Regions from separate parts of the Homo sapiens genome. Here regions 1 and 3 are each linked to region 2. The links come from fine-mapping of genetic effects on gene expression. A gene starts in region 2. Each other region holds a variant in brackets. All regions are shown on one strand. Distances are from middle to middle.

The links.
Region 1: its variant is fine-mapped to the expression of PHKA2 in whole blood (TOPMed, PIP above 0.99).
Region 3: its variant is fine-mapped to the expression of PHKA2 in whole blood (TOPMed, PIP above 0.99).

What each region holds. Positions count from the first base shown.
Region 1 is chrX:19,019,890-19,022,649 of GRCh38, reverse strand. ADGRG2 (adhesion G protein-coupled receptor G2) reads left to right here. Exons shown (of 29, transcript NM_001079858.3): 14 at 1,452-1,546. All of the region lies in intron 2 of LOC101928415 (a long non-coding RNA gene), which reads right to left. Among named protein-coding and RNA genes, the nearest start is that of PHKA2, 37 kb to the right of the region's middle. The variant G/C (reference allele first, on the strand shown) is at 1,352.
Region 2 is chrX:18,983,165-18,985,908 of GRCh38, reverse strand. It overlaps PHKA2 (phosphorylase kinase regulatory subunit alpha 2), which reads left to right and starts at 1,795. Exons shown (of 33, transcript NM_000292.3): 1 at 1,795-2,054. The coding sequence starts at 1,977. RefSeq lists enhancers at 961-1,010, 992-1,492, 1,493-1,993 and a silencer at 1,111-1,800.
Region 3 is chrX:18,802,745-18,805,504 of GRCh38, reverse strand. PPEF1 (protein phosphatase with EF-hand domain 1) reads right to left here. Exons shown (of 16, transcript NM_001377996.1): 11 at 1,428-1,613. Among named protein-coding and RNA genes, the nearest start is that of PHKA2-AS1, 86 kb to the left of the region's middle. The variant G/A (reference allele first, on the strand shown) is at 1,113.

The sequences.
Region 1 (2,760 bases), 37 kb before region 2:
ATCACAGCTTGTCCAACAATTATTTGGGGTTGCACAGATTATCATTTTGAATTGTGTCCATTGGCTATCCTGGCTGTGTAAACCGATGGCTTACAGGGCAATACACTCAGTATCTGAACCCCGAGCCTTCTGTGACAGTCAAAGTCCTAGAAAATGAGAGTTTCTACTCATTAAACTATTCATTGGTACAAATAAGGGCAATGAAATTGTATTCCCTGTCCACTGTACGTATTTAGTTCATTTCACTGACCTCTTTTCGTTATTGCAACACTAATTTTCTTTCACCTAAACCAAGGCTAAAGTAGAAAGGACAGAGAGAATGTCTTCAATTCTTAGCTATCTAATAATCTAGATAGAATTCCCAGAAAGATTTTTTTTTTTTTTTGAGATGGAGTCTCACTCTGTTGCCCTGGCTGGAGTGCAATGGCACGATCTCGGCTCACTGCAACTTCCACCTCCCAGGTTCAAGTGATTCTCCCTGCCCCAGCCTCCTGAGTAGCTGGGATTACAGGCACCCACCACCACACCCAGCTACTTTTTGTATTTTTAGTAGAGACAGGTTTTCAGCATGTTGGCCAGGCTGGTCTCAAAATCCTGGACTCAAGTGATCCACCTGCCTCGGCCTTCCAAAGTGCTGGGATTACAGGTGTGAGCCACCGCACCCGGCCCCAGAAAGATTTTGGATTTGAAAGGTCTTGATGTGGCTGGGTGCAGTGGCTCACACTTGTAATCCCAGCACTTTGGGAGGCCGAGGTGGGCAGATCACCTGAGGTCAGGTGTTTGAGACTAGACTGGCCAACATGGCAAAACCCCATCTCTAATGAAAATACAAAAATTAGTGGGGTGTGGTGATACACGGCTGTAATCCCAGCTACTCAGGAGGCTGAGGGAGGAGAATCGCTTGAACCTGGGAGGCGGGGAGGTTGCAGTGAGCTGAGATCATGCCACTGCACTCCAACCTGGGCAAGAGAGCGAGACTCCATCTAAAACAAAAAAAGAAAAAAAGATCTTGATGTTCATCTAGACTGGTATGTGAAAGGGCACCCATGATGGAAACTCAAATGTTTATGGACACCAGGCAAGTGGCCAGCTAGTGTTTTGGGGGTGAGATTAAAGGTGTCAAGGTGCTTGCTTGTCTCTGCAACCAAGTTTCACCCCTGCCTGTTCATCGTGTAGACAGGCAAAATGAGCCAGCACCTATGTGTGGTCAGAGAGTCTCTGGTTTGCAACCTCTGTGAATGTGAACCTCCATAAATGTCTCTTAATATAAAGTCTTTTTGGGTAAAATTCAGACCGTGGTAAATGGGTATTTACAAGCTTATTGGGGTGACATCACAAGTTAACAGTATCA[G/C]TGTCCCCTTTCCTCACTCTAAGTTTGCAAAAGCAATTACAAATATGTAAGTAGGTTTCCCATTTAGTAACATTCTGGTTATGTATATTTCTCCTTACAGCACATTAAATTGTACATTCACAATAAAACTGAATAATACAATGAATGCATGTGCTGTAATAGCTGCTTTGGAAAGAGTAAAGATTCGACCAATGGGTAAGTTGTCTATTATTGCTGCATTAATCTTCATGTGGATTTTAATGTGTTATTTTTCTAATTGAAAATGTAATTAATAAATTTACATATGTTACAGCTTTCTGTTTTGACTCCTTTGTCCTTGGGCAATTTCTCTCTCTTTTTTTTTTGAGGCAGAGTCTCAGTCTGTCACCAGGTTCAGTGACACAATCATGGCTCACTGCAGCCTCCACTTCCCGGATTCAGGTGATTCTCCCACCTTAGCCTCCCGAGTAGCTGGGACTACAGGCATGCACCACCACACCCAGCTAATTTTAACATTTTTAATAGAGATGAAGTCTCCTTATGTTTCCCAGGTTGTTCTTGAACTCCTCGGCTCAAGTGATCCTCCTGCCTCGGCCTCCCAAAGTGCTGGGGATCATGAGCCACCACACCTGTCCATTGGGCAATTTTTAAAGAGCCCTAGAAGGTTATTTTTCCTGCTTGCTAATAAAGTTTTTTATTTTATTTTACTTTAAGTTCTGAGATACATGTGCAGAACGTGCAGGTTTGTTACATAGGTATACATGTGCCGTGGTGGTTTGCTGCACCTATCAACCCATCATCTAGGTTTTAAGCCCTACATGCATTAGGTGTTTGTCCTAATGCTCTCCCTCCCCGCTAATAAAGTTTTAATATGTCTTATTTGATAATATGATAAACCCTGTTGAGAAGGAGAATTCTTTTTGGAATGTTCAATGGATTGCTACTGGGATATGTCCACTTTTTAAATTGACAAGCAAAAAGTGTGCATATTTGTGGTGTACAATGTGATGTTTTGATATACATCACAGAATGGCTATATCAACTATTTAACATTTGCATTACCTCACATACCTATCATTTTTTGTGGTAAGAACATTTAAGGTCTACTCTCTAAGCACTTTTCAAGCATACAATACATTCTAATTAATTGTAGTCATCATGTTGTACAATAGATCTCTTTTATTCCTCCTGCGTAACTGAAATTTTGTGTCCTTTGTCCAACATCTCCCCAATCCCTCTGCCTCTGACCCCCAGTAAACAGCATTTCACTCTCTGTTTCTATGAGTTTGACTTTTTAGATTCCACATCTGAGTGAGATCATGCGGTATTTGTCTTTCTGTGCCTGGCTTATTTCACTTAACATCATGTCCTCCAAGATGTGTTTCCTTGTGAATTCCTCTTAGGAGTTGCTGAAGAGTGATTAGTGCTGC
Region 2 (2,744 bases):
TGGTTAAGGACCAAACATAAGGGAACGCAGCTAAGCAGGACTGATTTCATTTACTCATGCGAGCAACATTAATTGAGCTCCAACTATATGCTCAACACTGTACCAGGCATAGTAGGAGATACCAAAAGACTGTTTCAATGAATAACGTACATTCCAATTAGGAAAATATGCCTCATCCACACATGAAAACATAAATAACAACAGGAGGCAATACATTGTGGCCAAGTGACAACGAAATTAGCTATGATTTATTAAGTATTTTTCTACTAGCCAGGCTTGTGCTAAATGCTTTATATTCATCCTCTTGATCTTAAGTCATCCTGTGAGGTAGGTGCTATGATTATCTCCATTTTACAGATGAGAACACTTAAGTTCAAACATGTAAAACGGGATGCCAAAGGTCATACGACTTGTAAATGACAGAACTGACATTTGAACTCAAAATGAACTGACTCTAAGTCCTAAGCTCTTACTAAACCAATGGCTACAGAAATTCAGAAAATGGGGAAGGCTAATAGAGGAGCTGAGCTGGCCGTTAAGGGAAAGATAGGCTTCAGTTAGTCAAGGAGGAGGAAGAAGGGCCGAAGGGGTCAAGCATAGAGTAAATGCATGGAGACTGGAAAAGAGCTTGCGGAAATTGATTGCATTAGTCTAGCTGTCCAGTAAATTCCTATGTGGGCCAGATTTTGGTGGACAATGAATACCAGGCCGAAGATTGTGAACTGTAGGTTATCAGCAGCCACGAAACATTATAATGAATGCCAAGTTTCAAGCTGTAGACCCGTGGGAGATGAACTGCGAACCTGCCCGAGGAAGCGGCGCCCAAGTGGCTAGGGGCGGGGTCACAGGCGCCAGAGGTGTCGCTGGGGCACCTCTCCGGGCCTTCCCCCTTTTTCTTCCGGGCTGGGTCCCGCTACTCCAGTTCCGCTAGGCGGCGGAGACGGGGCCAGAGGTGGGACTACAATCTTGGCCCTCAGAGGGGTGCCCAGGCGGCCGCGGTAGGCGGCCCTCTTTCTCCGGCCTCGAGTGGGACTGGCACCCGTCTCGGGGGGCTCCACACTACCACGCAGGAAAGCCAACTCGTCCGCCGCCCGAAGCCGGGTTCCCCTAGACTCCCACGGGCCGCCTCCTTTTTCGTCCCCCCCGAGGCCGCGACTCTGAGGGTTCCGCTCTGCGGCGGAGGTGGGGCCAGGGGCGGGGATGTGGGCGGGGCCGTGAGGTCGTTCCAGGGCGCGGGGCGGGGCCGCCCCCTTACCTGTGCCCCTCAGGGTTCCAAACGTTCCACTCCGCGGCAGGGGCGGGGGCGAGTCCGGAGGGCGGGTCCAAGGCGCCCAGGTGGCCGCGGCAGAAGGGCCTGTTTCTCTGGCCTTGGCTGTGGTTGGCAGCCGGCCGGGGAGAGAAGGGACTCAGGGAGGCAACCTGGTTCCCGCCCGTTGCTGATTTCGCAGCGGCTCTCCCGGGCCGCCCCCTTTTCCTTCCTCCTCAGGCCGCGACTTGGAGGGTTCCGCTCCGCGGCGGGGGCAGAGCCAGGGGCGGGGCTGAGCGCGGCCTGGGCGATCTCCCCGGCGGCTGGGGTGGGCTGGCGTCTTCTTCGCGCCCGGGGGACCTCCTCGCGACCGCCGGGACGTAAAAGGGGCTTGGCAGGGGCGTCCTCGCCCCACTCCCGGAACCTGGTTTCCCGCTGCTCCCGCGAGCGTCGGGAGCCCAGCAGGCCTGGCCGAGGCGGGACCTTCGTCGCTCCAGCCCCCGTCCCCGCCCCCGCGCCTCCCCGCCGCGCGGAGCTCTGGTTGGCTTGCTTTCCAACCGGACTTTGGGGCTAGCGTTTAGAAAAGTCTCGACCTCCTCCGGCCCGGTCCCATCCCAAGAACCGACTAAGGCTGTGAGTGTCCGGGAACCAGACCCGCTTGGAGGCCACAGCCCCGACGTCCCGCGCCCACGCGGCAGATCGGGCGCTGCGGCCTGGGAGCCTCGGGGAGATGCGGAGCAGGAGCAATTCCGGGGTCCGCTTGGACGGGTACGCGCGGCTGGTGCAGCAAACCATCCTGTGTTACCAGGTAAGGAGGGACCGCCCCCAGGGAACGCGTGGAACTACCCTCTCATGTAACTCATTCTCCTTCCCAGGTCTGGCCCTCTTGTGACCTGAGACCTTGCAATTAAGAGTTTGCTATTTGAATCTAGTCCTTGCTAGCCAGTGATTACCACCCCATTGCCACCCCGTGCTCCTTAAGATTCAGGGGACCTAACTGTTGCTACGGCTACTTTTCACAGAATTCTTTGGCCATTGTTCAGGATGAGAATGAGCCGCCTCCGTGCCCGGGTCCAAACTGCCTCTTTTTGCATTGACTCTGCTTTTTTTGGACGAGAAGAGGTGTGGGGGGTTTGGACAGACTACACTGAATGAGAACAGTAGACAGGAGTGAAGAAGCTCCTGAAGTTTACGCAGGACTCTGCAGTGTGGGGCGACAGCTACCGTCCCTCCCATGAGCTGTCTTGGTAGAGACCCACCTGGGAAGCCCTTAGGGGCTACTTTGGTTGCTATTTTACAGATAAGAAAATTGTGAGGCTAGAAAGGTCACTGCATGTAGCAGGTCAGACCCAAAGGCTCCCAAGCTCACAGGGTCCTATGACACTGCCCATGTGGTCCGAGGTATGAATTTGCCTGCTATGCTTTGTATTCCTGGGCTAAAATTATGTGTGGGTCCATCAGTGTAAGACCACTGAACTATTTTTATTCCTAGTGAAGA
Region 3 (2,760 bases), 180 kb after region 2:
GAGCATGTCACTTCAGACAAGCCACTGATGTTTTCTATCTATTTTCTTACTACAAAGAAACCCTAAACAATACTTGCCTTACTCATCTTGGAATGTTAGTATGAGCTGAAAATGAATTAATAAAGGTCAGAAAAACAAAGTGCTGACACAGAGGGAAATGCCACACAACTTGGTGTCCATTTTTATTTATTGCTGTTCACTATAGAAAAAGGTGCATTCCAGGCCAGGCGCGGTGGCTAATGCCTATAATCCCAGCACTTTGGGAGGCTGAGGCAGGTGGATCACCTGAGGTCAGGAGTTTGAGACCAGCCTGGCCATCATGAAACCTTGTCTCTACTAAAAGTTCAAAAATTAGCTGGACGTAGTGGCGGGCGCCTGTAATCCCAGCTTCTCGGGAGCATGAGGCAAGAGAATCACTTGAACTCGGGAGGCGGAGGTTGCAGTAAGCCGAGATTGCACCACTGCACTCCAGCCTGGACAACACAGCGAGACTCTGTCTCAAAAAAAAGAAAAAAGAAAAAAAAAAGAAACGGTGCATCCCAGAACAACTTGGGACAAGAAACCAGCTCCTCGGTCCTCACCTCTTTTAGCCTTTGATCAGACACCACTGAAGGAACACAACACACTCCGTTTTAGTGGCTGCAGCTAAACTGACTACAGTGAGCAACTTGCTGGAGGTCACCTACTCAGGGAGCTGAAGGGAAGTGTGTTTTGTGTTTTGGGCCCTGCACAGGGAACATGTAAAAAGTGCAAGAGCAAACTGGATTCACTGCTGCCTTTTATGCGCTCTGTGAGGAAAAGGACATTCTCAACCCCACTGTATGGGACAGTTGCCTTATAAGAACCAAGCCTTTCTGTGTGTCTACTTAGTGCCATGTATCAGAATTTCTGTTTCTGGGGCCAGGCGCGGTGGCTCACGACTGTAATCCCAGCACTTTGGGAAGCCGAGGCAGGCGGATCACCTGAGGTCAGGAGTTTGAGACCAGTCTGGCTAACATGGTGAAACCCTGTCTCTACTAAAAATACAAAAATTAGCTGGGTGTGGTGGCGCACACCTGTAATCCCAGCTACTTGGGTGGCTGAGGCACGAGAATCACTTGAACCCGGGAGGC[G/A]GAGGTTGCAGTGAGCTGAGATCACACCACTGCACTCCAACCTGGGTGGCAGAGTGAGACTCCATCTCAAAAAAAAAAAAAGAATTTCTGTTTCTGGGATTAGGGAAGATCAGGGAAATAAACCAAATATCTTTTAGGATAAGGGACAGTGAGGCCCCTTCAAACAACCTAGATGAAGCTCGCCTTCTCTGGTTTCTGTTTGGTACTAGAGAAGACATCTTCTCATGGGCTTCTAGGCCAGACATGCTCTGTGAAGAAAAGACTGTGCTTAGGGGAAGGATGTTTATGGGAATGTCACCAACAATTTTAGCTTACCTTCCCATCATGACAGATTTCATACCCTTCGGGCTTACATTCATGAGACCTGATGAGCATCTTCAACTGGTATTTATTAAGAATCTTGGAAGTAACATCTGGTCCAAAATAGCAGCCCCCTCCTCGGCACGTATTTGGAAAACAGCCATTTTTGCCTCTGGGATCACTCCACAGAATATCAATAATCTTGGAACAACAAACCAGATTTCGCTGTAACTTACAAGTGAGAGTATATCTTTCTAGATTCCAACTTATTTGTCAGAAATATTAACCCAAGGTATCCCAAAGACCACTTCTCATTCTTCCTTGAAAATTGTTTCAGGCCTGGCGTGGTGGCTCATGCCTGTGATCCCAGCACTTTGGGTGGCTGAGGTGGGAGGAGTGCTTGAGGCCAGGAGTTCAAGCCCAGCCTGGGCAACATGGTGAGACCTCAACTCTGCAAAAAATACAAAAATTAGCCAGGCATGGTGGTGCATGCCTATAGTCTCAGCTACTAGGGAGGCTGAGATGGGAGGATCACTTGAGCCTGAGAGGTTGAGGCTGCAGTGAGCCATGATCACTCCACTGCACTCCAGCCTGGGTGACAGACAGAGACCCTGTCTCAAAATTGTTGGGAGCAGGCCCCCCTAAAATCTGGCCATAAACTGGCCCCAAAACTAGCCATAAACAAAATCTCTGCAGCACTGTGACATGTTCATGATGGCCATAACGCCCACGCTGGAAGGTTGTGGGTTTACGGGAATGAAGGCAAGGAACACCTGGCCTGCCCAGGGCGGAAAACCGCTGAAAGGCATTCTTAAGCCACAAACAACAGCATGAGCGATCTGTGCCTTAGGGACATGCTCCTGCTGCAGTTAACAAGCCCAACCTATTCCTTTAATTTGGCCCATCCCTTCGTTTCCCATAAGGGATACTTTTAGTTAATTTAATATCTATAGAAACAATGCTAATGACTGGCTTGCTGTTAATAAATACGTGGGTAAATCTGTGTTTGGGGCTCTCAGCTCTGAAGGTTGTGAGACCCCTGATTTCCCACTTCACACCTCTATATTTCTGTGTGTGTCTTTAATTCCTCTAGCGCTGCTGGGTTAGGGTCTCCCCTACTGAGCTGGTCTCCGCAAAAAAGAAAAAGAAAAAAGAATATTGTTTCATATTCATCTCCTCCATGAATAACCAATACAGCAATAACAATAACCAAGAATCAGGCCTTGCCATTTTTTTTTTGTTTTTTTGGCTTTAAAAATTCCATCACAATTGTTTGACAATTGTTGAATCTACAAGGTTCTTTTCTCTTAAAAGAACTTCATTGTCACATTCAGGGAAGAAATTAGCT